4 linked regions of the Homo sapiens genome follow. The protein of the gene in region 4 interacts with the protein of the main gene of each other region in a biochemical or structural test. Each region holds a gene or a part of one and is shown on either strand. Other genes may lie near its edges.

Region 1 (7,026 bases), on a different chromosome or scaffold from region 4:
ACTTAACAAAGGGAATTAGGAAAAGGTTGGCTTGAGAGAATACAGGTAGTGCTCACAAAGTATTAAGAAACACTACTTAGTAATTGCCTGACAAAATACTTGAAATGTATAGTAAGGCTGCTGAATATATTGTGTTGAATATTCTTAGAAAGCTGAACAGAAAATAACATTGCAAATCTTTGTTTTTCAAGATCCCAAGTCTCATTTTAAGAGCAGATTTAAATAAATTATCTTGATTTATTTTTTCAAAGCTCAGTTGTGGGTGCATCACTGTTTATTATATAATTTACACTTACATGTATGCCTGAAATATTTCATTATGAAAACACTGTTTTAAAAGTCTTTTTAAGCACAAGTTTTTTGTTTGTTTTTTGTTTTTTTTTTAGTTAGTTCTATCATCTTAGTGTAGATATTGCTGCTGAATCAGAATGGGAGAGGCGTATTCTGTGATGGTAATAACTACCTTTTATGGGCCAGGTACTGTGCTAGTAATTGTTGTGCATATCTGACTCACCCTAGGGGTAGGTATTACCATCTCATTTTACAAATGAAGGAATAGGGTTTCAGATATTAAATCACTTGCCCAAAGTCCCATGGCTTGTAAGTGCTAGAGGTGGGATTTCATTTTATATTTTCCAACTCTAAAGCCCAAACAGTTTGTAACTCTTGTGCCGCCTTAGCCTCCGAAGTATGAATTTTATATACTACAATCTAATTTTAAAACTGGTATAGTTAAAAATACTATGAGCCAATGCTCAGTCACATGGCTAGTAGGGAAAACAGGAACCTGACAGGTCATTCCAACTAATTCAGGCTAATTTTTAAATAAACTTGTGTGATATACCAAGGCAGATCCCTGTCCTATACTGTTCTCCATGAGATATACCCAAGATCATCAGAAGCATTTGGAATTTAACTGGGTAAAGAGAGTGTCACCCAGCAGCTGCTGAGCAAGAAATGAACTAGAACGGCTGATTGCTAATTATATGTTGTGCATCCTGTTTTTTGTCAGCTTGAAAATAGTGTCTTTACTCTTTTGTTATTTGGAAATGAATTCTTTTTTTCTCATCAGTGATGATTTCTTTCTTTAAAAACTGACATCAGGCAAGGAAATGCTAGATGGTTTTGTCTTTATTTTTGAGAGTAATTGTTCAAAGGAGAGAGTCCAGAGACCTGGATTCTAGGCTTAGTTCTCTTAGCAATTCTGTATAAACCCTGGGAACCATCTAACTTCACTGGGTTGATCTGTAAAATAAAGTAGTTGAACTAGATGGTTTCCTTGTTCTCTTCAGCTATGAAATGCTCCTCAAATGTCATCTGATTGAAAGATCACAAAGACTGAGGCAGGAGGACCTGGGTTTTGTCTCTCTCTCTCTCTCTTTTTTTTTTCCTGAAATACTTTAATAAGAATGATATCTGTCTCTTACTAGCTAAGTGACTGGTTAAGTCTTGGATCTTCAGCTGGGCGTGGTGGCTCACGCCTGTAATCCCAGCACTTTGGGAGGCCGAAGCAGGTGGATCACGAGGTCAGGAGATCAAGACCATCCTGGCTAACACGGTGAAACCCCGTCTCTACTAAAAATACAAAAAATTAGCCGTGCGTGGTGGCGGGCGCCTGTAGTCCCAGCCACTCGGGAGGCTGAGGCAGGAGAATGGCGTGAACCCGGGAGGCGGAGCTGGCAGTGAGCCCAGATCACGCCACTGCACTCCAGCCTGGGTGACAGAGCGAGACTCTGTCTCAAAAAAAAAAAAAAGTCTTGGATCTTCTTTGATCTTTAGACCCTTTATCGCTCTCTCTTTTTTTTTTTTTCCTTGACGCCTGGCTAATTTTTTGTATTTTTAGTGGAGACGGGGTTTCACCATGTTAGCCAGGATGGTCTCGATATCCTGACCTTGTGATCCACCCACCTCGGCCTCCCAAAGTGCTGGGATTACAGGCTTGAGCCATGTGCCCGGCCCCCCTTTATCTCTTAGATAGTAATAATATCAGACCTAACTACCTTACCAGGTTGCTGTGAGAATCAGATGAAATAGTAGTAAATGAGAAGCATGCTGAAAAATTCTAAAGCAAAATATAACTGTAAAATGTATAATTGCTCTAAGTTCTTACATAGTGAAATTGTTTCCATATTTAAACTATTTGATGGAAATGTAGTTTATTGAATGAGAAATTTCTGGAATACATGTACTTACATATTTCAGTACCATAATTATTAAATGCATTTAATGTGTTGGGATAGTAATTGTTTATGAATATTAGTACTGTATTAAATGTTAATAAAACCTAATATGTTTTTTCAAAATAATGTGCTAGTGACTTTTTTAGTGTTAGGGATTGATTTTGTTCTTGGCTTTGGTAGAGAGTGCTTTTTGGTTATTCTCTGGCTGATGGAGAAATAAAAAACGTTAAAGCCATTTAGTTAATAATGGAGATGCACCAGAGTTTTTTAAGTAAAATGAATTTCTAAACTAAGATTAAGATCTAGTAAAATTTTCATAAGGTATTTTCAGATAGTTTCCTGTAAAATTGAAGATTTCTTCTCTTAGCTAAACAGTTTTCTATGATTATCTGGCCTCATCAATACTCATAGCTTCAAGAAGATATACTACTAACAATTTAGACTAAATATACTGCTAACAATTCAGTTAGTCTAACCCAATATTTTGAAAAAGTAACAAATAATTTATTTGTATTCAGATGATGTTACATAAGAAAGTCCCTTAGGATGACCTGCATGTTCTTTTTCGTCATTACTAAATGCAGTCTAAGGGCCGGGCATGGTGGCTCACGCCTGTAATCCCAGCATTTTGAGAGGCTGAGGTGGGCAGATCACTTGAGGTCAGGAGTTCAAGACCAGCCTGGCCAACATGGTGAAACCCCATCTCTACTAAAAACACAAAAATTAGCCAGGCATGGTGGCATGTGCCTGTAGTCCCAGCTACTCAGGCGGCTGAGGCAGGAGAATCGCTTGAACCTGGGAGGTGGAGCTTGAAGTGAGCCAAGATTACGCCACTGCACTCCAGCCTGGGCAACAGAGCAAGACTGTGTCAAAAAAAAAAAAAAAAATTAGCTGGTTGTAGTGGTGTACTCCTGTAATCCCAGCTACTTGGGAGGCTGAGGCACGAGAAACACTTGAACCTGGGAGGCAGAGGTTGCAGTGAGCTGAGATCACACCACTGCACTCCAGCCTGGGGAACAGAGCAAGACCCTATCTCAACAAAGGGGAAAAAAAAGTAGTCTAAGGACAGATGATAGGAACTAGGTAGTCCTGGAGAGACTGGAGTTATAACCCACAGGCTCCTCTACGAACATGAAATTTCTTTGAAATATTGTGTCTTATCTTAAAAGTTCACGGACCAGTGTTATGTTCATGGAACTTTTGCATTCTATTCTGTAAATACATCTGTATTTTAATATGAAATAGATTTTTAAAGTTATTCACTGGCAAAATTACTATTCCAGGAAGGTGTTACCTATTACTTATTCCTGGCGTATAGATAACTACCTACTTCATTTGGAAAGCTACAGATAATGTGCCATATTTGCTTTATTAAAATCCAACAAAATTGGCCGGGCGCGGTGGCTCACGCCTGTAATCCCAGCACTTTGGGAGGCTGAGGCAGGCGGATCACGAGGTGAGGAGATCGAGACCATCCTGGCTAACACGGTGAAACCCCGTCTCTACTAAAAGTACAAAAAATTAGCCGGGCGTGGTGGCGGGCGCCTGTAGTCCAAACTACTCGGGAGGCTGAGCCAGGAGAATGGCATGAACCCAGGAGGTGGAGCTTGCAGTGAGCCGAGATGGCACCACTGCACTCCAGCCTGGGAAACAGTGCAAGATTCCGTCTCAAAAAAAAAAAAAAAAAAAAAAAAATCCAACAAAATAGAGCATAATTTTATTTTTTTATTTTCTTTCTTTTTTATTTTTTTGAAATGGAGTCTCACTCTGGTGCCCAGGCTGGAGTGGAGTGGCACAATCTTGGCTCTCTGCAACCTTCGCCTCCTGGGTTGAAGCAATTCTCCTGCCTCAGCCTCCTGAGTAGCTGGGACTACAGGCATGTGCCACCATGCCCAACTAATTTTTGTATTTCTAGTGGAGACGGGGTTTCACTGTGTTGGCCAGGCTGGTCTTGAATTCCTGACCTCAGGTGATTTGCCTGCCTTAGCCTCTCAAAGTGCTGGGATTACAGGCATGAGCCACCACGCCTGGCCTGTAATTTTTAAAGATAAATGTTCAATTAATATTATTAACATCTCTAAGCTCTTAGATATGAGATTCTGCCTTTATCTTGTGGAATTATAACCATCATTCTTTTATACCTTTTGAATTTTCAGCTCTCAGAGAAGGGGAAACCTTATGTTGACATCCAAGGTTTGACTGCCTCTACCATGGAAATTTTATTGGACTTTGTGTACACAGAAACAGTACATGTGACAGTGGAGAATGTACAAGAACTGCTTCCTGCAGCCTGTCTGCTTCAGTTGAAAGGTACAGACATTAAAACTTGCTATTGTTTATGTCAAAATAGCCCTGGAAAGGTTGAAAATTAATAGTGTAAACTTAATCATGAACATTTTGGAGACAAACTATGGATGTTCATGTTTGCTGGCCATGGCTTTTGTCTCATTGAGCAATAAGAGATCAGATGTCAATAGCACTATAAAGGAACTTCTCCAGATATGAGTATTTGGCTCTATAAAAGAGAGCATTTGCACCTTTTCTGTTTTAAAAAAAAAATGGAGGAAGGAGAAATTATGTGTTTTCTTACATACATGTATGTAACACACCTATAAGGAAATATAATAAAAAAGTGATACTATACATAGCCTACATGGATACTCTTTATCTATCTGGCCATTAAGTGGTAGTATTTCATTAAGATACATGAAATTTAAATTGATGCACAAAATATTAAAGTATGATATTTTCACAGGATTACAGGTGGTTTGTTTTCCCTTACAATTCCCAGGTTTTTTGTTTTGTTTTTGAGACAGAGTCTCACTCTGTCACCCAGATTAGAGCACAGTGGTGCAATCACAGCTCACTGTATCCTTGAATTCTTGGGCTCAAGCAATTCTCACACCTCAGCCTCCTGAGTAGCTGGGACCACAGGTGCATGCCACCACACCCAGCTAATTAAAACAAAATTTTTTTGTGTGGAGATGAGTTCTCTCTATGTTGCTCAGGCTGGTCTCAAGCTCGTGGGCTCGAGTGATCCTCCCACCTTGCCTCCCAGAATGCTGGAATTATAGGCACGAGCCACCGTTCCTGGTCCCCAGTTTTTCTTTTTTAACATTCAGTTATGTTTTCAGTTTTTATATATACATAATTGACACACTTTTAGTTTTTAATACATGATTTAAACAGTGTGAAGCTTTTGCATTAGTGCATAGCCATAACATTAAAATACTCTGAACTTTTCAATTAGATAAATATGAGATTTGTTATTACTATCTTCTCCTTTTCTTTCACTCTAGTCTTTTAGTAAGTTTTCATGTAGAGTAGAAAATGGATACATTATGCTGAATTCGCAATTGGTTTTATAGTTTGATTCCCAAGAGTTTTATAGGCATTTTTGTTGAATTGTGCCAGGTCTCTGGATGTGATTCATCTTGCAATACTCATTTTAAAGATTAAGCAGAGACAGGTGTAAAGGTCTTGCTGAAAGTGGCACAGTACATAAGCCAGAAATAGAGTTTAAGTTCCTTAAGCATAGAATTTCTAATCTGTTTCTTAGGTGTTGAAACAAGGGTTCATCTGATAACATGTAGAGAAGATGCTGAGATACAAGAATATATCCTAGATCACACCTGTCCAACTATTCTAAAGTGTTTGCTGCCTGTGTCTGTCCTAGGTGTGAAACAAGCCTGCTGTGAGTTCTTAGAAAGTCAGTTGGACCCTTCTAATTGCCTGGGTATTAGGGATTTTGCTGAAACCCACAATTGTGTTGACCTGATGCAAGCAGCTGAGGTTTTTAGCCAGAAGCATTTTCCTGAAGTGGTACAGCATGAAGAGTTCATTCTTCTGAGTCAAGGAGAGGTGGAAAAGCTAATCAAGTGCGACGAAATTCAGGTACGGATTTGTCTTGATGTTATGGTTTCTTCAAGATTGGGCAATTACAAAACTTGCAAATAGGATGCAGTTACTTACCATCAGGGCTTCATAATTAAGTGTGCATTTTGGCTCAAAGATTTCATTAACCCCTCCTGTACCAAATTTATTTGCATTTTTATGGAGAGGGAGTTTGCCACTTTCTTCAATTAGATATATGATCCCAGTGGGTAAGAATCACTATTCAACAGAGTATAGAATAAGCAGAAATTGGAAGTAAAGTAGGTATCTGTAGACCACTTCTCTATTACCCGTTCACTCATTTCACAAACATTTATTGAGAATATCTACTATGTAGCACTTAACTATGCCAGGTGCTACAGATCCCCAAGTGGGTAAATATAGTTCTTGCTTTCAGAAAATTCACAACCTGCTAGTAGAGACAGAGATATAGACAAAAAAAATGTTATAAAGAGGATCATGAGAATAGTGAGCCTATACAAAGTAAGGACATTACATAGAAGAAAGAAGAATAAACCTTTGCTCAGGAGTGGATCAGAAATGAAGAGACAAAAGTTTGGAAGTGAGGATCTACAGAAGCAGGAGCCAAATCATAACTGTCTTGTGAGGATGCAGCGGTTGGAAGGGAGGGACACATGAACTGGATGTTAAAGGAATAGTAGGCCAGGTGCAGTGGCCTATGCCTGTAATCCCAGCACTTTGGGAGGCTGAGGCAGAACTGCTTGTGTCCAGGAGTTTGATACTAGCCTGGGCAACATGGCAAAACCCTGTCTCTACAAAAAAATAAAATTAGCCTGGCATGGTGGTGAGCACCTGTGGTCCCAGCTACTTGAGAGGCTGAGGTGGGAGGATCTCTGGAGCCTGGGAGTTTGAGGCTGCAGTGAGCCATGATCGCACCACTGCACTCTAGCCTAGGCAACAGAGGGAGACCCTGTCTCTTGCGGGGGAAGAA
Region 2 (7,026 bases), on a different chromosome or scaffold from region 4:
TTTAGGGGACCACGTATTGCTTGAGGCATCATCACAGGTCCAAATGAACACACGACCATCCTAGGAAGAAACAGGATAGAGTCAGGAGGTGGAGTCAAGACTCCTGCGTTTGTGATGTGATGTCCTCCCAGTCTAGAGCCACCCGGCACCTCTCTGCAGGAACAGGGTGGGGGATTCAAAGGGGAGCCGAGGACCTCTGGGGCGTCCACAGCTTTGTTTCTGTCTCTTCACACTGGTTAAGAGTCTCCCGGATTCCTTTTCTCATCCGGGTTTCGGAGGTGGACTCTGTCTGCATTGCTAACTCAGATTTTCTCTGGGGTTTTCCTCATGCCTGCCAAGTCACTTCCACTGGCCGTCTATACCTTCTCAACTGAATGGGCAGAGCTCTCCAAAAACCAAGCTCCAAGAATGAGAAGGCACAAGTAAAAAAGCACAAAAATCCCAAGTTTAGAACCAAACCAAACAGGTTCCCATGATGTGAAAGGCCTAGCTGGCTCCCTCTAGGGTGGTGGTGTATAACTGAAGGCTCACCCTTGGCCGTCCTTGCTGTCTGGGAAGGGTGGCTTGGTAGCTAAGCGTATAATTCCCATCCAACCCCATCGTTGCTTGGGAACACTTGGAACTGCACCTGGGCACCTCGGCGCCCTAGTCTCACATGGGTCAGAAGGGAAAATTCATCCCGAATCCGCCTCCTTCTTGGTGCCGGTTCTGTTGTAGCTGTCTCATCTCAGTGGAGGCAGGCCACTTGTGGCTTCTGACCAAGACTTCCCCACACAATGACCTGACTCCCTGTGCTCTGGGCCAAAGGTGCCTGTTGCTCTCCCTTTACCTTCCCAGAGGACTTTCTGCTAAGGAGACTAAGAGCTGATGGGCCTGACTCGAGACTAAATGACAAGGGATACTCATGGCCCTGGGCTGACCTGGGAGCAGCTGGCGATGGTGCTGGTGGGCAGGCCGATGGAGGGGGCCCAGGCCACATCTCGAACCCAGTCACTGTGCGCTTCTAGCTTCTGCTCCTCCTTCCACTGGCCGTCCTCCTCCTCCCTAACAGTGGGGACAGAAAGAGAATCAGCAGGGGGCCGTTCCCACACCTCAACTCCTCCCCAACCCAACAGGCTCTGCCTGGGGTGGAGAAGCGATTCCATCTTTCTTCTTTCATTCATGGAGTTTGTGGCATTTTATTCCCTTCACCCCAGCTGTAAAAAAAACCCTCCAGAAAATGCTCTGCTTCCACAGCCAAAGAGTCAGCTCCAACAGTTGGGAATTAGGTGAACAGGTGTTGTGTTGTTTTTCAAGGATGTCCTCCAACAGATTGAAAACAGTATTTTACTGGCAGGAGGGAGAAAGAAAGGTGACCTTGTTTCTTGTGAGTGTGGCTGAGTCATGGTGAGTAGGGTAAAGGGTAGAAGTGTCCCCTCAAAGAGAAGGCCACACATCCCTACTTACTTCCACAGCTTGATGAGGTTGTCACAGCCACCTGATGCAAACCTCTTGATGTAATTGGGTTTCTGCCCCGATGGGTGGTCTATGAGGCTTCCAGGTACAACAGCAGGGGCCCAGCTGACGGCATTGCAGCCAATCTGTAAAGATGGGACACATGGTGACTCTGCCTTGCAAGAGAACACTGCTTCTGCAGACCCAAGCCTGCTGTCCCTCTCCCCTCCGCTTCTCAGGACTGGAGTGTGTGTGAAGGCTGACATGAAGCACTCATCATGGGGTCCACTGCTCAGAATTCTCCCTCAAGGATCCCAACAGTGTGTGCATTTTTCTGCAGTGTGCGCTAAAAGTAGAAATTAAGAACTCCCACAAGTTTAAGAAACAGGACATTTTCTAAACACATGAAAGAATGGTACATTGGAGCTTTTTTTTAAGAAAAATCTTTTATTATAAAGTAATAGATCAAGAAACAAGAATTCTGCCACCTGCCTGAAAAGCCCTGTCATTATGCCCTTCCTAATCACAGCTCCCTCTTCCACTATAAGTAACCACTGCCCTAACTTCTAACCCATTTTCCCCCCATTTTATCACCCAAATGTGCACCCCTAGATACTATAGTTTAGTCTTGTCCATTAAACATTTTTTTGGATGTTTTTTACATCTCCTACTTTGCAGATTCCTCCTCTGATTTTTTTCCTTACAATTTTTCTGCTGAAGAGAGCCTAGTCTCTCGGTCTGGGTTTTGCTGCTTCATATGCAGTTCAATATGTTCCTCTGAATTCCTGAAAACTGTCAGCTGGAGCCAAGACTGGACAGACTCAGGTGTGATCCCTTTGGCAAGACTAGAGCTGGTGCGTTCTCTCATCAGGAGGCACGTTAGATTGTCTCTTATATTAACAGCTGTCAATAACTCAGGCCTCTCTTAATTCACTGGGGCTTGTAAAATGGTGATACTCTAATTCCATCCTTTCTTTGTCATTTATTCCATGGAATGCTCCAGATAGGGACACTTCTTCTCATTAACTATTCAGTTACCCAGGGATAGAGGTCTGATATGGTTTGGCTGTGTCCCTACTCAAATCTCATCTTGAATTCCCACGTGTTGTGGGAGGGACCTGGTAGGAGGTAATTGTATCACAGGGGCAAGTCTTTCCCATGCTGTTCTCATGATAGTGAATAAGTCTCGCTAGATCTGACGATTTTAAAAATGGGAGTTTTTCTGCACAAGCTCTCTCTTTTGCCTGCTGCCATCCACGTAAGCTGTGACTTGTTCCTCCTTGCCTTCTGCCATGACTGTGAGGTTTCCCCAGCTACGTGGAACTGTGAGTTCTCCATCCTCTTTCCTTTGTAAATTGCTCAGTCTTGGGTATGTCTTTGCCAGCAGCGAGAAAACAGACTAATACAAGGTCAAAAAGGAAAGGCTGGATAAACGCTTGATTCTTTCTGAACTGGTTCTATCACTTTCCAAAGATGACTGATTCTCCTCTTTATTTATTATTAACAATTTTTTTTTTTAAAAATTGAGACAGGGTCTCACTGTCACCCAGGCTAGAGTGCAGGCTGGTAAGATCATGGTTCACTGCAGCCTCAAACTTCGTAGGCTCAAGTGATCCTCCCACCTCAGACTCCCAAAGTACTGGGATTATAGGTGTGAGCCACTGCCTTTTTTTTTTTTTTGAGACAGAGTCTGGCTCTGTTGCCCAGGATGGAGTGCAGAGGCGCGATTTTGACTCACTGCAACCTCCACCTCCCAGGTTCAAGTGATTCTCCTGCCTCAGCCTCCCGTGTAGCTGGGACTGCAGGTGTGTGCCACCACGCCTGGCTAATTTTTGTATTTTTAGTAGCGTCGGGGTGTGTTAGTCCATTTTCACGCTGCTGATAAAGACATACCTGAGACTGGGCAGTTTACAAAAAAAAGAGAGGTTTAATGGACTTACAGCTCCATGTAGCTGGGGAGGCCTCACAATCATGGCAGAAGGCAAGGGAGGAGCAAGTGACATCTCACATGGATGGCAGCAAAAAGGGAGAGAGAGCCTGTGCAGGTGAACTCCCCTTCATAAAACCATCAGATCTTGTGAGACTTATTCACTATCAAGAGAACAGCATGGAAAAGACCTCCTCCCATGACTCAACTCCCACTGGTTACCCCCTACAACACATGGGCATTCAAAATGAGATTTGGGTGGGGACACAGCCAAACCACATCATGGGGCTTTGCCATGTTGGCCAGGCTGGTCTTGAACTCCTGAGCTCAGGTGATCCGCCTGCCTCAGCCTCCCAAAGTGCTGGGATTACAGGTGTGAGCCACTGTGCCTGCCCTGGGCCCAGCCTTTTAACCCTCATTTCGTCTTAGTTCTCTACAAGTAACTATATATTTATGCTGAAGTCTTTGTAGTCATTTTAGTTGTGTGACTTGTATCCTCTAGTAGATTTCTCAGGAAGGGCTCCTAGAAACAATAGTCCCTGAATTCTTGCATATTGATAATAGTTCATATCCTTTACACTCAAAAGCTAATTTTAAAAACAGCTTTGATATAGTATAATTGACATAAACTGCATATCAAGTGCATGATTTGGTGAATTTTGACAAAAATATATCCTGTAGGATCATCACATCACCTCAATCAAGATAAGGAACATGCCCATCATTCCCAAAAGTTTCCTCGGATCCCCTGGTAATCCATCTCCCCATCCTGCAGCCCCCAATCGTGGTGACCATGGGCCTGCTCAGCTGCATTTCCTAGATATTACAGCAGTGGAATCACAGTGTGTCCTTTTTCTTCTTTTTTTCACTCAGCATAATTATTTTGAAATTTATTCTTCATCTTATTTTGTTAAGTCATTTCTTTTTATTGCAGTCATTTCTTTTTATTGCTCGCAGTATTTCCAAAGTATGGATATATCACAACTTATCATTTACCTGTTGATGGACATGTGGACTATTTCCAGTTTTTGGCTATTAAAGCTGCTATAACCTTTTGTGTATAAGTCTTTGTGTGAACTTCAAAGTCAATTTTCCTGGTTATAAATCCTTGGCTCACACTTTCTTTCCTGGAGTATTTTAAACATGTTATTCTTTTTTCTTCTGCACCAATCCTTACTATTGAAGAGTCTGACAATAATCTAATTGTCTTTCCCCTTTAAGTCACAAGGTTCCTTTTCTCTAGAACCCCCCAAAATTTTCTTTAAAGTCTAATAATTTTACTAGAATTATATCTTTTTGTTGGTGATGCTGAGTTGAATTTTTTTTTTTTTTTTTTTTTTTAGAGACGGGGTCTCACTATGTTGGCCAGGTTGGTCTTGAACTCCTGGCCTCAAACAGGAGTTCACCTCGATCTCCCAAAGTGCTAGGATTACAGGCTGAGCCATCACGCCTGGCCTTGATTTTTTTTTTTTTTTTTTTTTTTGAGACAAGTCTTGCTTTGTCGCCCAGGCTGGATTATAATGGCGTGATCTTGGCTCTCTGCAACCTCTGACTCCCGGGTTCAAGCAATTCTCTTGCCTCAGCCTTCCGAGTAGCTGAGATTACAGGTGTGCGCCACCACGTCTGGCTAATTTTTGTATTTTTAGTAGAGACGGGGTTTCGCCATGTTGGTCAGGCTGGTCTTAAACTCCTGACTTCAGGTGATCCGCCCACCTCAGCATCCCAAAGTGCTGGGATTACAGGCTGAGCCACTGCGCCCGGCTGATATTGTTAAGTGTGGGGTATGATCTCTCAATCTCAAGTTTCAAATCTTTGTTTTTTAATTTTAAGAAAGTTTTCTGGATTACTTTTTGGTATTCTGTTTTCCTTTCCAGGGACTCCTGGTATTCGTATGTCTGACCTTTCTGCCTGTCTTTACTTTTGGTCAAAACCTTTTTACCTCTTCATTTTTTTGCTCTTGAAATGTTTCCTTTTTCACACTGTTTATCCTTTTCAGGCAGGATCTGCTGTGTTCATCGACACTTGCATTTCGTCTTAGTCTTTCTTTACTTCTGAAATGATTTTTAATTCTAATTCTTTCCTGAGTTCTGTCACCTTATTTCTGATTTTTAAAAAGTTGATTTACACTATTCTCTCTTGTTTTGTATTGTTAGAATGTCACCTGGCTTGATTTGAAATAGCAGGTTACAGCTTGGCTCGGTTATGTGGGCATGTCTTTCTAATGTGCTCTCATTGTCCGCAGGGAGGTTATTTTGCATATTCTTGTTTCTTATATAACAACTGTATGCAATTTCACTTCAAATACTTTTCTGTTATTTTTAGGTGAGATGAGTTTTCCTGATAAGAAAGGCTCAGGAAAGTCTAAGCTCAGAACTCTCCCTTGTTTCTGTGTGGTGTTAAAAAACGTGGGAGATGGCTTTCAGGAGTTCCTGTCTTTGTTCCTCTTCCCCACATTGGTCTACATCTCATCCTTCCTTTCCTGTGTCCCTATCCAGCTCAACTGTGATTTCATTTCCTGCAGTTCTTCCTCCTGAGGGGCCCTGTCCCAGAGGCTTGCTCTGGAGGATCACAGAGCTCAGATTTCTTCCCGCCCCTTCAGCCTTTCTTATTGTGGGCCGCTTCCACTCACTCGGTGTTACAGAGTGCAAACCCCTCCTGGTCATTTCTCCAAAGGCCCCCAGAAGATGCTCACCATCATCTTTGATTAGCAAAATGCAAATAAAAATCACAATAAGGGCCGGGTGTGGTGGCTTACACCTGTAATCCCAGCACTTTGGGAGGCTGAGGTGGGCGGATCACTTGAGGCCAGGAGTTTGAGACCAACCTGGGCAAAATGGTGAAACCCTGTCTCTACTACAAATACAAAAATTAGCCGGGTGTTGTGGCGTGTGCCTGTAATTCCAGCTGCTCAAGAGGCTGAGGCATGAGAATTGCTTGAACCTGGGAGGCGGGGGTTGCAGTGAGCCGAGATCATGTCACTGCACTCCAGCCTGGGTGACAGAGCAAGCCTCCGTCTCAAAAAAACAGAACAAAACAAACCCAAAAAATCACAATAAGATACCACCTCACATTCACTAGGACAGCTGTAACCAAAATGACAGACATATGTTAGTGAGGATGTGGAGAAATTAGAACCCTCATACACTGCTGATGGGAATGTAAAAGGGTACAGTTACTTTGCAAAACAGTTTAGCAATTCCTCAAAAAGTTAAACACAGAATTACCATATGACTCAGCAATTTCACACCTAGGTATAGACCCAAGAGAATTAAAAACATATGTTCATGCAAAAACTTATCTGCAAATGTTCATAGCAGCATTATTCATAAGGCCGAGAACATCCATCATCTGATGAATGGATAAACAAAATGTCTATATTCACAATGGAGTATTATCCAGCCATAAAAAGGAATGGAGTGCTGATACACGCTATGATATGGATGAAACTTGAACTCATTATAGTAAGTAGGAGAAGCCAGTCACAAAAGACCACAGATTGTCTCATTCTATGTACAACTGATCCTCAATTTCATTTCATTATAATGCTGACAAGATTAAAAAAAAAAAAACAACTCCCAGCGGGGGCCCCTGCCTGTGTGGAGTCTGTGTGTTCTCCCTGTGTCTGCGTGGGCTCTCTCCTGGTACTCTGGTTTCCTTTCACACAA
Region 3 (7,522 bases), on a different chromosome or scaffold from region 4:
GCACTTTACGTGGATTTTCTCATTTAATCTTTAGAGTAATTCTGAGGTAGATACTATTATGACCCCATTCTAAAGAAGGGAAAACTAGTCCAGGCGTGGTGGCTCACGCCTGTAATCCCAACACTGTGGGAGGCTGAGGCAGGTGGATCACCTGAGGTTAGGAGTTTGAGACCAGCCTGGCCAACATGGCGAAACCCCGTCTCTACTAAAAATACAAAAAATTAGCCAGGTGTGGTGGCGTGCGCCTGTAATTCCAGCTACTTGGGAGGCTGAGGCAGGAGAACTGCTTGAACCCGGGAGACGGAGGTTGCAGTGAGCCAAGATTGTGCCATTGCACTCCAGCCTGGGCGACAGAGCAAGACTCTGTCTTAAAAATAAACAAATAAATAAAAAATTTTTTTCAAAAAAGGGAAAACTGAGTCTCAGACTTTTGCAACAAACTTCTGCAAGGGAGTGACAAAGCAGGGATTTGAAATCAACTCTCTCTGGCCTCAAAAACTAAGCTCTTAAGCACTGAAATCCACCAAGCTCGTTCCCCCATAGGACCAAAGGGTGCTTGAATTTTACTACTCCAATACCCAGTCCCTGCTTGGGTACCCTGGACTGGAAGCAGTGGAAAATTACAGGAATTCTGACTCCTAACAATAGGCTGGAATCCTCCAAAGCTATGTAGTGGGTGGAGGGGAGGCAGCACTGACTGAGATGCTTTAAAACAACTCGTTTCCTTTCTTAGAACACCTGAGACCAGGAGGCGGACAAGGGTATGGTAGGAAAAAAAAACAACATTTCTTTTTCTATTCCAGACTCTTCTCTCTGTGCTCCTTTTCAGTATTTCACTCCAGGAATAGCCCAGGCAGCATGGCATCATGAGAGCAGTCACGGCAGCAAGAGCTGCCACCAGACACTGGCATGTACTAGGCACTAGCAACACGCCAGGCTCCCTGCATTTTAACCTCATTTTAGCCCTTTTCACAGGTATTATTTCTCCCTTTATACAGGTGAGGAAGCTGAGGCTCAGAGCCCTTAGTTTGTCCAGGGGTATATAACTATTAAGTAATACAGCTAGAATTCTAGCACAGTTCTCTCTAACCTGTCACTGCTTTTAGGATGCACACCAATTGTCCCTAATGCTTATTAGCATGTAGATTCCTGGGTACAGAACAGGTCTGAAGTGGGACCCAAAAGTGTGCTTTCTTAAACAAGCTCTCAGCTGATTCTGAGGCAGAAGACCAGCCACTGGGAAACAAGGCGCTATGAATGTTTTTTCAGCCTGTGTTCCTCAGAAATACTAGAGTCAAAAAAGTGACCAGACATCTGAAAAGAAAGCCGGGAGGCGGAGTTTCTATGGTTAGATATGTTTAAGAAATACTGCATATTATATTCCTTTCTGGATGATTTACAATGTACATTAGCAAATTAAGGATTCTGAAATAGCTTGTGGTCAATAAACTTATTCAGCTATACTTAAGAGTATTTCCAAAACTTTAGTTAACTACAGAATCCTCCTATATTAACAATATCTATTAAAACCTCCCAAGACTCAGCAAATGGAATGGACTTTAGGAAGCAACTGCTATGCTACACTTCCTAACTCCAGCCCGCACTGGCCTCTCTCTTTCCTACCTCTCTCTAAGGATGCAATAAGAGAAGTCCTAAGCTCTGGTCATGGCCTCACCCTCACTTACTACGTGTGACTTTTGGGAAGCCACTTAACCTCTTTGGGTTTGCTCCTCAGCAGTTAATTAGGGGTAATAATACCTGCATGCCGATAGGGACTTCATGATTAGGATAATGGAGGTCCAAACACTGTGTAACCCGCACAAGACTGCACTCCCTGGAAGGACTGTTACATCTTTTGGCCTGTGACTAAACTCAGTTGAGCACTGTGTAATATACCAATTGATCTTGTTTTCCCACATTTCGTTTATGGATTTCATCTCCTAAATAACTGTGTGATCGCAGCCCTCTGTGGGCTTCATTTCCTCCTCTGTAAAATGAGGGCTCTATTTTGAGGACCCTCCGGGCACTGGCCTTTTAGAAGTCTACTAAAAATCAAAATGCTAAAGGGCAACACATGTTACACCTCACTATGTACCAAACGCTTCGTAAGCATCACCTCCTGACTCTCCACAACAGCTTTATGAGGCAGATCCTATTATTCGGCCCTATTTTACAGGCGGAAACTTGGACTCAGAAAGGCAAAACAGCTTGCTCAAGGGCTCACAACTATTTAGGTGGTAGAGCTAAGATATGAACCTACCTCTGACACCAAAGTGCACTTCAACACCCTACTATCACCCAACAAAGAATTCTGGCCACAGAATCACCTTGCTGCGGTATTCCTGACTGAATCAAGATACGCTGGGGAAGAGGCATCTGAAGATAGCCCGGGTTCTGACCTCGGCCCTGCTGCCTAACTGCCTGGTGACTTCAGGTAAGTTCTGTGTCTTCTCGGGGTTCACTTTTCTACACGCGAAATGGCGGTGTTGAACTAAGTCAGTGGTCAAACCAGCTCACTTGTGGCGCCTGCTACAACCAGAGTTTCCTGATGACTCTGATGCAGTGTGGGGTGGGTCCGGAAGCCTGGATTTTTATCCGACGCCCCAAATGAGATCGGCGGAACCAGAACTCTAAACCTCCGGTCATGGCTGATGCCCCCGCCCAAGGCCCCCATGAGGGCCTTGGGAGGCTGTGGAGCCCAGGCCAGCGCCAGCCTGGACCTGTGGGGTCCAAGGTCCCCAAATCCTCGAGTGAGCGACGTCAAGGGGGCGCGACACGACCTCGCGAATGTGCGGTCCTTCATGACGTGAGCAGGGCGCGACCGACGGTCCCTTTTCGGTTCTCTACAGCGCAAGGCCTCGCTGAAGCGAACCCATCGTGGGAAGGGCGCGGAGAAAGCGGGGAGAAAGAGCAGGGGGACGTCGGGCCTGCGCCTGGCACCGCCGCTACCTGGATTCGCGGGCCCCTCACACACTCACCTGCCGGTAAGGATAGCTGGCCATGGTGATTCTGACGTCACACTCAGGCAAGGGGTGGGGCTTTCCGCTCTCAAACCCGCCCCTCGTCTCGGCTTTGGGGCTGGGCCCGCATCTGATTGGACGTCCGCGCCTGTCAATCTTGGGTGCTGTCGGCCGACGGAAGTGACGATGGGGGCGGTGGGCGGATGCCTACCCGAGAGACCAGGGGAGCTAAGTGATTGATGGAGCTTCCGGAAGTCTTGGCGGCTGTACCAGCGCTAATGTTCCTCCTTTTCCTGAGGTGGAGTGGGCCGAAGAGGTGGTCAGGTTGGGAAATTTAGTGAGAAGCCTGGGTGGGGTGTTGCTGCGGTAGCCATGTTATAACCTGGCAAATGGGACGCATGATAGTGACGTAATTGCTGGAGTAGCTCCTGAGTTTCCGCAGATGAGCCGCGGGAAAGGAGACGAGGGGCGGTGGCCAGGCGGTTGCCCTGACAACGGGGAACCGACCGACTCTTCCCGGTAGGGAGAGGCGATGGCGGAATTACTCCTCTAATGTCAAGGTACTGGGTACCAGTTAGTACCCTTGTAGTGGGATACAGATCTGTGGTCTTTGGAGAAAAAAACCCCAGATCATTAGAGTTGGAGGAAAATTGAATTATCTAGTGCCTCTTTCTTCATAAATGGGGAAACTGAGGTGCAGAGAGGCAGTTGCCTTGCCCTAGCTCACAGTGGGTCGCCTAGAACCGGGGTCAATGGATGTCCAGTTCTCAGCAGGGAGGTCTAGGTCGGTCCCCATCGTAGGTCAAATCCTGGTGACCGAGTGATCTCAGCACCATGTACTTGCCACTCAGTGGTTCCGTTTCTACACTTATTTGTGTGCTTATTTGATTTCTTTGTCAAGTTCTTTCATGTGGGCTAGGGTTTTGTCTGTTTTTGCTTGTCATTATAACTCCAGTACCTAGTATAGCGACTGACACGATTATTAAAATAAATGAATAAATGAATGTTACGAACTGTTATCCAGTCTAGTCCATCTATCTAACCAAGTGCACTTTCCAAAATCACAGTGCTGATCATGCCACTTGCCCACTACACAGCCTACAATGGATGCTCTTCATCCACGCCTACAAAATAAGGCCCAATCTCTTCATTCTGGTACTCCAGGCCCTTCAGAATCTGGCCCAGCCTCAACTTTCCAATCTTACGGCCCCTTCTGCTACTCTGTATTTCTGTGCTCAGTTCCACCATTCAGCACTTCTGCTTTGGAGGGAGGATCTTTGTTTTATCACTTTCTAACTGTATCACCTTAGGCAGGTTTTTTGTTTGTTTGTTTTTAATTTCCAACTTTTAAGATCAGGGGTATATGAGCAGGATGTGGTTTGTTACATAGGTAAATGTGTGCCATGGTGGTTTGTCGCACACATCATCCCATCACCCAAGTGTTAAGCCCAGCATCCATTAGCTATTCTTCCTGATGCTCTCCCTCTTCCCACCTCCCTCTACGCTCCGACAGACCCCAGTGGTGTATGTGCTCTCCTCATTCAGCTCCCACTTATAAGTGGTAACATGCGGTGTTTGGTTTTCTGTTTCTCTGTTAGTTTGCTGAGGATAATGGCTTCCAATTCCATCCACGTCCCTGCAAAGGACATGATCTTGTTCCTTTTTTATGGCTGCATAGTATTCCACAGTGTATATCTACCACATTTTATTTAGGCAAGTTATTTAACCTCTCTAAATTTCACTTTTCTTAGCTGACAGGAACAAATGTGTAAATTTGAAAATGAGCTTATTATACCTGCTCATGCCCCAAACTTAGGTTCAAACCACTCCTTTCACCTGGACCAGCAGCCCTCCCAACTCCAGTCCTGCAAGGCTCAGTTCCAATTCCATTCTCCACCTAACCCTCCCACATTCCCCTTAGCTCCAGAGTTAGCCACTCTCTCTTGCCACTCCCCCTTTGCACTTGGTACTGTCACTGTGTGGTATTCCAGCCTGCCTTGTATAAGAGTTTTCTTTTGGTGTTTTCCCCAAAACCCATTCCTCTCCATCTCAGAAAATCCACCCAGTCTCTCAGGCCAAAAACCTAAGATCATTCCTGTGTGTCCTTTTTTTCTCCACACACTCCCTCACCTCCCTCATCTCCATTTGCTCTAATTCAAACATGTACACATCTGCTCTTTTCTCCCTGTTCGCACTATCACTGTAGTCCAAGACACTATCATCCGTGCCTGGATCACTACAATAGCCGACTGACCAATGTTCCTGCTCTCACTCTTCTCCCCACGCTTCATTTTCTCCACAGGCAGCCAGAGTGGTTATCTTATTCCTTGGCTTCAACTCCCTGGGGACTTCCCATCACTCTTATAATAAAAGCTAAACTCATCCTAATGACATTCATGGCCACACATACCAGCATCTCCAGCCTCATTTCTTGCTGTTGCTGTCCCCCTTGCCTCATTCCAGCCATGCCGGCCTGGTTGTGCCATTCCTGGAATGTACAGAGCTCATTCCTGGATGTTGGCTTTGGCTGGTCTCTGACTGCCTGCTCATTCCTGCCTCCAGGTCTTTGGACTAGCTTTTCCCTCTGTCTGGGATAGTCTTCCCTTGACTTTTCACTGGTTGGCTTCTCCTTATCATCCAGGTCTCAGTTCAGATATCACCTGGGGTGGGGGGAGTTTCTTGACACTGCCCCCCAAGCATTCCCATCATCTATCTTATTTTTTCATAATACATGTCACTAGTTGAATTGTCCACTTTGTTTACATGTATATTGTAGAATTGTCATTTTCTTATGTAGTCCTCTAACCTCAGCACCTAGAATAGTGCCTAGCATGAATTCAATGTTAGTAGTTATTATTATCATGTATTGAGTGCTTACTAGGTGCCAGACGTTGTGCTAAGTACTATGTGTTGTTTAATTTTCACCACAGTCTTTTGAGATAGAGACTATTACCCATTTATAATGAGGAGCTGAGGCTCAGAGAGGTTAAGTGACCTTCCTGTTATCAAAAAGATAAATGGAGCCCAGGCGCAGTGACTCGCGCCTATAATCCCAACACTTTGGGAGGCAGGGAGGAGGACCGCTTAAGCCTAGGAGTTCGAAACCAGCCTGGACAACATAGTGAGACCCTATCGCTACAAAAAATAGTTTTAAAAAATTAGCCAGGCATGGTGGCATGTGTCTGGAGTCCCAGCCACTCCAGAGGCCAAGGTGGGAGGATTGCTTGAGCCCAGGAGGTCAAGGCTGCAATGAGCTGTGTTTGCACCACTGCACTCCAGCCTGGGCAACAGAGAGACTCTGTCTGGGGAAAAAAAAAAAAAAAAAAAAAGATAAATGGAGAAGTAGGACTTGATCCCAGGTCTGCATTTTTTTTAACTACTCAGTATTTAATAGTTAGTAGATTGTGTCTTCTTTACCTTCCTAACCCCCCAGTTCAAAAAATATTGGTGGAATTGAGCTGCAAAACTTCAGAAGGGAAGAAGGTTGAAGGTCAAGTGGGTATTTGCCTGGAGAGAGAACAGTGACAAGCTGGCCTGCAAACTGGAGTCATGTGACACACACTCATTTATTCCACAAACATATGATCCCATTGGGTTCCCACCTCTTGCCAGGCTCTGTTCTAGGTGATGAGAATCCAACTCCTATGAGAATTATTTGCCCCCATTCCCCTATGCCCAGCAAAGGGCTTAGGAGAACTATCTGTGGGAGGTCTGTGCTATTTCGTGGATGGAGCATCCACATCTTCTCTTAGGGAGTCAGGAACGTGCCAAAGCCAACAGCCAGGGCTGTGCCTCTGAGGACCCACACAGGCCCAGGTATGTTTGTTTTGGAGGGGGCTGGATAAAAGAGAGATCAGGATCTTCCTAAGACTGAAAAACAATCAACTCACTTCCAAAACCTCATCTACCTGAGGCAGACAGAGGTGGGTGGAGAAGTTCCTGTTATTGTTTCACTTGTAGCCCAAGGGGAAAGCATGGATTCCAGACTTTTTTTAGAACACAGAGCACTTTCCTGAGTTCGTGGAAGCCCTGCGGTTGACCCATTAGGGGTGAGGCAGAGCTTGGTAATGAAAAGCCCATCCACTGGAAAATATTGCCTCCCCTAGAGACACAGCCTCCCAGGAGCCACTTGGCTCGCACCAAGCTTCTGTAAGGCTTACTGAGAAGGAATACCAACACCCACCTAATTATTATGGAATTAATTCTCTTTGATTCCAACTAGATCCAGTTCTGAAATTTAAATTCCAGTTGGATGCTGTGGATCAGAGGATGATTTGCAACTTTCCACAGAAGCAACAGAGGAATGAGAACAGCAGACGTGGCAATTTGGCCACACTCCCCTTCCATTATGGGATCATAAGTAGAGTACGTTGACATCGTCTATTCCCATAAACTGTTCAGGACAGCCACAAAAAAGATCTAGTCCTTTGGGATCTCCAGCACCAAAAAAAAAAAAAAAAAAATATCCATGGCCGGGCACGGTGGCTCACATCTATAATCCCAGCACTTTGGGAGGCCGAGGCAGGCAGATCACCTGAGGTCAGGAGTTCAAGACCAGCCTA
Region 4 (7,026 bases):
GCCTGTATATATTTAAAAATCTCTGTAAAAATGGTCCCGTGATGGGGGCTGGGCACGGTGGCTCATGCCTGTAATCCCAGCACTTTGGGAGGCCGAGATGGGTGGATCATGAGGTCAGGAGATCAAGACCATCCTGGCTAACATGGTGAAATCCCATCTCTACTAAAAATACAAAAAATTAGCCAGGCATGGTGGTGGACGCCTGTAGTCCCAGCTACTTGGGAGGCTGAGGCAGGAGAATGGAAGGAACCAGGGAGGTGGAGCTTGCAGTGAGCAGAGATCACGCCACTGCATTCCAGGCTGGGCGAAAGAGCAAGACTCCATCTCAAAAAAAAAAAAGTCCCGTGATTTACTATATCTGCTTATAGACATATATGATATAACTATTTCTTTTTATATAAAAATGCTAACATCAAAATTGCTCTTCATTCATTCAAACTGATATTAACTGTTTTTTTTACATGCCATCTATTGTGCTTAATACTGGAGGAATAAAGATAAAATACAATTCCTGTGAAGGAAAATATTTTAGATGTAACACATCATGATCAAAATGCTATGGGAACACAGAGGAAGAACACTAAACTTGGCTGATAGAATGTCAGTAACTTGCCAGGGAGAGAGAGGCTTTCTAGAGAAGATAAAGCTTAAACTGAATAAGCTAGGTGCAGAAGAGAAGAAATTAGGTAACTCATACTATCTTCTCTCCTTTGAACTTACCTGTTGCTAGGTAAATGGGGTGATTCTGGGCAGGGCTCCATGCCTGCATGGCTGTACGATCTACTTCCTTTAACTTCATCCTGCTAAAGGGAATATTTTATACAGAAACAGCCTTGAATGACTTGAATGTCTAACACAGAACACAGATATTTTAAATAGAAACATACTGAACAAACCACTACAACATTAGTAATGCCCAACTGCAAATAAATCAAATCGGTTTAGGTGTCATTTGTTGGATATATTCATTAGAAAGAAGACAAACTTGAGGCCGGGTGGCTCATGCCTGTAATCCCAGCACTTTGGGAGGCCAAGGCGGGCGGATCACGAGGTCAGGAGATTGAGACCATCCTGGCTAACATGGTGAGACCCCATCTCTACTAAAAATACAAAAAATTAGCCGGGCGTGGTGGCGGGCACCTGTAGTCCCAGCTACTCAGGAGGCTGAGGCAGGAGAATGGCATGACCCGGAAGACAGAGCTTGCAGTGAGTTGAGATTGCACCACTGCATGCCAACCTGGGCGAGAGAGCAAGACTCTATCTCAAAAAAAAAAAAAAAAAAAAAAAAAAAAAAAGACAAACTTGATAAACCATTTTGAGACAAATACTGGGCTATTCTGTTTACAGATTATAGTTCTTCAGTTGAATCAGTCTAGAAAAATAGCCCACAAAAATAATAAGGTAGTACCTGAAGAATTAACTTTGCTACACATGTGTTTATCCAACTAGGATGGATGACAAAACATTACGGGTAAGAGCAGCCAAAAAATAAATAAGGTGCAACTTCCTGGAGTAGGATTACTCAATGATAAGAGCAGTTTAAAAAATTAATTCAAAGTTACAACATATTAGAGAGAATATAGTAAGCCCACAGATTTTAAAGATAAAGTAGAAATTATTAGAAAACTGGTCACTTCAAGGTATAATCCCATATACCACTTGTTTACGTATTTTCTGTCATTAAAGTTACTTTGATGGAGTCAGGCATGGTGGCTCATGCTTGCAATCGCAGCACTTTGGGAGGACGAGGCAGTTGGATCACTTGAGGCCAGGAGTTCGAGACCAGCCTCGCCAACATGGCAAAACCCCGTCTCTATTAAAAATACAAGAAAATTAGCCAGGTGTGGTGGTGCATGCCTGTAATCCCAGCTATTTGGGAGGCTGAAGCAGAAGAATCACTTGAACCCAGGTGGTGAAGGTTACATTGAGCCGAGATCATGCCACTGCACTCCAGCCTGGGCAACAGAGCGAGACTCGGTCTCAAAAAAAAAGTTACTTTGATGGAAAAATTACAACGGTATAGTATTATGTACTTTTTAAAGATCTTTGTTATTTTTACATAAATATATTGAAATGGCATAGTACTGCACTATAAGATGTACCATAATTACCTAGTCTAATACCAACAAACACCTAAGCTGTTTTTAGCTATTTTTACAAAAAAGTGCTGAAATAAATGGTCATCTGCACGTTATTTCATTAAAAAGGGACAGCTATAAATTTCCAGAAGTAAAATTGCTAAGTTAAAAGGTTAATGCAATTTTAATTTTGATGAATATTACCAAGTTGTCCTCTATGGCAATTGTGCCTTTTCATACCACCAACAGTAATATACGATTACTTATTGCCCTACAGCCTTATCAGAGCATACTGTCACACTTTTAGATCATACCAACACTAAAAAATGAAAGGCCAGGTGCAGTGGCTCAGGCCTGTAAGCCCAGCACTTTAGGAGCCGAAGCAAGTGGATTGCTTGAGCCCAGGAGTTCAAGATCAGCTTGGACAACATGGTGAAATCCCATCTCTAGAAAAAATACAAAAATTAGCTGGGCATGGTGGTGCACGCCTGTAGTCCCAGCTACTCGGGAGGTTGAGGAGGAAGGATTGTTTGAGCCCGGGAAGTTGAGGCTGCAGTGAGCCGTGATTGCGCCACTGCAATCCAGCCTGGGCGACAGAGTGAGACCATGACTCAAAAAAAAAAAAGAGAAAAATAAAAATGTTAGCTCTGTATAGTAATACTATAAATGATGTATAACATCTTTTTTTTGTATGACTATGGGTAAACATATTTCCTTTTCTGTCATCTCTTCTGTCTAGTCATGTATTATTTGACCATTTTTCTTTTCTATTCTTTTTTTTTTTTTTTTGGAGATGGAGTTTCGTTCTGTCACCCAGGCTGGAGCACAGTGGGGCGATCTCGGCTCACTGCAACGTCTGCCTCCGGGTTCAAGCGATTCTGGTGTCTCAGCCTCCCAAGTAACTGGGATTACAGGCACACACCACCACATCAGGCTAATTTTTTTGTATTTTTAGTAGAGACGGGGTTTCACCATGTTGGCCAGGCTGGCCTCGAACTCCTGACCTCAGGTGATCCACCTTCCTCAGCCTCCCAAAGTGCTGGGATTACAGGGGTGAGCCACTGCGCCCGGCCATCATTCGACAATTTTTCTATTAAGTTGATAGACTATCTTTTGACTTTGCTTTTTTCAAAAAAAAAATTTCTTTTCACCTTTCATAGGATTTTGATTAAAAATAAAAAAAGCTATATGCTTTATCTTTTAGAGTTTTACGTTCCTAGAAAAGTTGAGCCACAAAGTACAAAAAATTGCTACACATTTCCCAACCACATAACCTTTCTCACCACCAACATCGCACATCATAAAGGTCTATTTGTTTCGATCCATAAACTAACATGAACACATCATTATCACTGAAACTCCACAATTTATATGAGGGCTCACTCTAGGTGTTGTATATTCTATGGGTTTTGACAAATGTATAACAACATGTATCTGTCATTATAGTATCACACAGAGTAGTTCCCTTGTCCTAAAATCCCCTATGCCTATAATTCCTCCTTTCCTTTCAATAGAGCCTATATAGTGAATTTTTGTGAATTGTTCTTGGGACCTAGAAAGAAGGGGTGCTCTCTGTTTTCAGGGCCTAGAGCTCAATATATATTAACTAAGTCCTCTTTATTGATTTGTTTAGATCTCCTATATCCTTACTTTTTTGTCCACTTGATCTGCCTTGGACCGAAACAGTGAATTAAGTCTCTTACTGCTAATATATTTATGTCAATTTCTCATGGTATCTCCTGAAACTTTTGCTTTATGAAAATTACTTTGTTATTTAATAGTTATTTGGTGCATATCCATAATGTTCAAATTCACTGTCAAATATACACTTTAGCTTTATGAATATCCTTCTTTGTCTCAAATAATGACTTTTGGTCTGAATTCCACCTCTTGTTTGCCTTTACATGTATACTTTTGCCCTTCAGAACTACTTTGTCATCATTACAAACAAAATAACAAACAAAAAACCAACAGATTTTACTGGTGATCCAATTTGAAAATCTTTTCACAGTAGGTTAGCTAAGGACATTTAAAATGTATTGACATGACAGACATGGTTGGTCTTAGTTTTACCATATTTTACTTTGGTTTAATATCTTTGGGTAATAATTTTTAAAAAGTCTTTCATTGTCTGTTTTCTTTTTTGTGCAATTACCATTTTTCTGATAATTAGGATGATGTATATTTTCATTATAATATGTGTTTCTGATTCTATCTTTTTAACTGTAATTTTAAATATTTTACTTAATACCATTAATCCTCTATTTCTTTACACAGAAACTATTAACTCCCTACTATGAGCACTTATGAAATTAGCTTGTATAATCTTACTGCCCATCCACACAACATGGTTATAGTCAATAGTATTATCTTTCTCAGTGTTTACCTTTGAACTCCTTATACTTCTACTAACTGATCTGTCAGCTTTAAATGATGTCCTTTGACTCATAGCCATTACAGATGTGGCAATTCACAAACTTATTCTACCTCCAATTTCTTTCCTCTTCTCTTTTTATTAGTTGTATAATCAATCCCTTACATTATTGGACATTTAACATTTACATTTTATTCTTTCTTCCTCATTCTCACTTTTGTTCCAGTCTCAGTCCTGCAGTTAAAATGCATACTCAATGCTCTCCAAGAGTATTTTTGCCAGTTTCCTTACTCAGCTCCAGAGTTTATCCTCTAACATTTTCCTTAAGATTGCCTTAAACATATGCTCCGAGTCTTGTACCTGCAAATTGTTTATATTTGAAGGAGATTTTATAGAGGAAAAAATTAAGACACAGAAAGTTAGACAATCTGTACATGCTAGCAAGGGGGCAAGGGGCAGAGCCAAGATTGGAACTTGCAAGTTTAGCTCCAGAGTTCTTTCTACTTCCAACAAGTTCAGGTATTCAATTTTTATATCATAGAGGAAATATTAACATTTAGAAGAAACAATAACAAAGCAACCAGCATGCATGATGAAACTGAAGAAATGCATTTTAGAAATTGTGTTAGGTTAGAGCAAAGTGAGATTAGGAGGCAGGATGTATCACATGGTTAAAAGCATGGTCTCTGGAGTTAATCCTCAATTTAACTACTGGCTCTGTTACTTATTAGCTATGATACTTTGGACACATTATTTAACCTCCCTGAGCCCCAGTTTCTACATTCGTAAAATAGGGAAAAGAGTGACAACCTCATGGGATGCTGTGAGGTTCCAATGAGATCATACGTTTTATAATAGGGAGCCAAAAAAAGTGCTCAGCACATGGGTTAGTGCTTTTGATAGGTTTGCTATTTTTAAAGATTACCACTATCATGAGATTAAACAAGAAAACTTCAGGGTTATTTGGGGGGAAAAATTCCAACTTTCTAAGATATAAAAAAGGCATTTATTTTCTTACATGAATCTCCTCTTCTTCCTCTTTGCCAACTGTCTCACCTGATCTTTAATAATAAATTCAAGTTCCAGCTCCTCCATGAAAACTGCCCTGATGATTCAATCCACATTGATCTAAATACTCCCCGACAAGTTTGTACTTGTCAATACTATGATTTAAGCATTTTATAATAACGTCATTATATTTTAATAAACATTTTGTAACATTCTACTAGCACATATTGTTTACATATTTTCCAATTACCTTTTTTTAACCAGTTGCCTTATGTGCTATCTTATCTCACCAACTAGACAAATAACGTCTTTTTTCAAAACTTTTACCCCTTTTTAGACTCAAAATTGCTTAGCACAGAAGGAGATATACAGAAAGTTTTGATTTATTTTAAATGTTTATATTTAGGGGAAAACAAGTAGACTAATGAGCTAGAGTGACCAGTTTCAGATAAAACATTTACTTTTAAATTCTTAACTCTTTAAAGGATCATTTACTTTTTAAAAAAGGAGAAAGTATGGTTAAGGGGGAAAAGGTTATAAGATGCCTTCAGAATAATTTCTAAAAGTGAAATCAAAATAGCTGTATTATTAAAAAAATGGAATACAATTATAGTATTTCTAAGACCTAAGTACAAGGACTACCTAATTCATTAATGCTTGGTTAATGTGTAACATTGACTGAAAAAGAAAGAGACACATTTATAAGAACATAAAATAGTTAAATGTGAATTCAAAGCATTTACTAAAGTTTATTTCTTAGCCTTAGTACTCAATGTTCTAAGAAAACATTGAGAAAAGAAAAGAAAAGAAAAGAAAAAAGAAAGGAAAAGAAAATTGTGTGGGCTTGTTCATACATGCCATCTCCAAGACAGTATCTATAGCACGGCAATTAAGAGCATGGGGTCTAGGGCAGACACCCTCAGTTTAAATTCCAGCTTCACTATGTCCACCTCTGACTTTAATCATGTCGCTTTATCCATGTATGTCCTGGCTCCTCTCTCATTAAAATAAGGAGAACAGTATCTATACTACAGGGTTGTTGTGAGAAATAAGTGGTATTACTCAGAGTGGTTAGAACAGTGCCTGGCATATATAAACAAATGCTCATAAATGACAGTTATTACAAACATCACTACTTAAAACGTCTACCACCACGAAACTTCAAAAATACATCTATTAGGCCGGGCGCGGTGGCTCACGCCTGTAATCCCAGCACTTTGGGAGGTCGAGGCGGGCGGATCACGAGGTCAGGAGATCGAGACCACGGTGAAACCCCGTCTCTACTAAAAATACAAAAAATTAGCCGGGCGCAGTGGCGGGCGCCTGTAGTCCCAGCTACTCGGGAGGCTGAGGCAGGAGAATGGCGTGAACCCGGGAGGCAGAGCTTGCAGTAAGCTGAGATCATGCGACTGCACTCCAGCCTGGGTGACAGAGCAAGACTCTGTCTCAAAACAAACAAACAAACAAACAAACAACAACAAAAAAAACATCTATTAGCCAGGCGCAGTGGCTCATGCCTGTAATCCCAGCACTTTGGGAGGCCGAGGTGGGCAGATCACTTGAGGC

Evidence for each region.
Region 1: of the proteins of SEC31A (region 4) and KLHL12, one has a biochemical effect on the other in vitro, tested with the Homo sapiens proteins (3 studies listed by BioGRID, with this or other methods).
Region 2: the proteins of SEC31A (region 4) and SEC13 form a complex in vitro, tested with the Homo sapiens proteins (2 studies listed by BioGRID and IntAct, with this or other methods).
Region 3: the proteins of SEC31A (region 4) and PEF1 form a complex in vitro, tested with the Homo sapiens proteins (one study listed by BioGRID).

What each region holds. Positions count from the first base shown.
Region 1 is NC_000001.11:202,917,219-202,924,244, reverse strand, and holds part of KLHL12 (kelch-like protein 12), read left to right. Parts: intron 1-4,336; coding exon 4,337-4,490; intron 4,491-5,856; coding exon 5,857-6,074; intron 6,075-7,026. UniProt on the Homo sapiens protein: Substrate-specific adapter of a BCR (BTB-CUL3-RBX1) E3 ubiquitin ligase complex that acts as a negative regulator of Wnt signaling pathway and ER-Golgi transport.
Region 2 is NC_000003.12:10,304,113-10,311,138, forward strand, and holds part of SEC13 (protein SEC13 homolog), read right to left. Parts: intron 1,581-7,026; coding exon 1,447-1,580; intron 1,045-1,446; coding exon 921-1,044; intron 61-920; coding exon 1-60. UniProt on the Homo sapiens protein: Functions as a component of the nuclear pore complex (NPC) and the COPII coat. At the endoplasmic reticulum, SEC13 is involved in the biogenesis of COPII-coated vesicles.
Region 3 is NC_000001.11:31,641,863-31,649,384, forward strand, and holds the start of PEF1 (peflin), read right to left. Parts: upstream 3,015-7,522; 5' UTR 3,003-3,014; coding exon 2,979-3,002; exon of another isoform or gene 1-2,978. UniProt on the Homo sapiens protein: Calcium-binding protein that acts as an adapter that bridges unrelated proteins or stabilizes weak protein-protein complexes in response to calcium.
Region 4 is NC_000004.12:82,881,138-82,888,163, forward strand, and holds part of SEC31A (protein transport protein Sec31A), read right to left. Parts: intron 804-7,026; 5' UTR 800-803; coding exon 721-799; intron 1-720. UniProt on the Homo sapiens protein: Component of the coat protein complex II (COPII) which promotes the formation of transport vesicles from the endoplasmic reticulum (ER).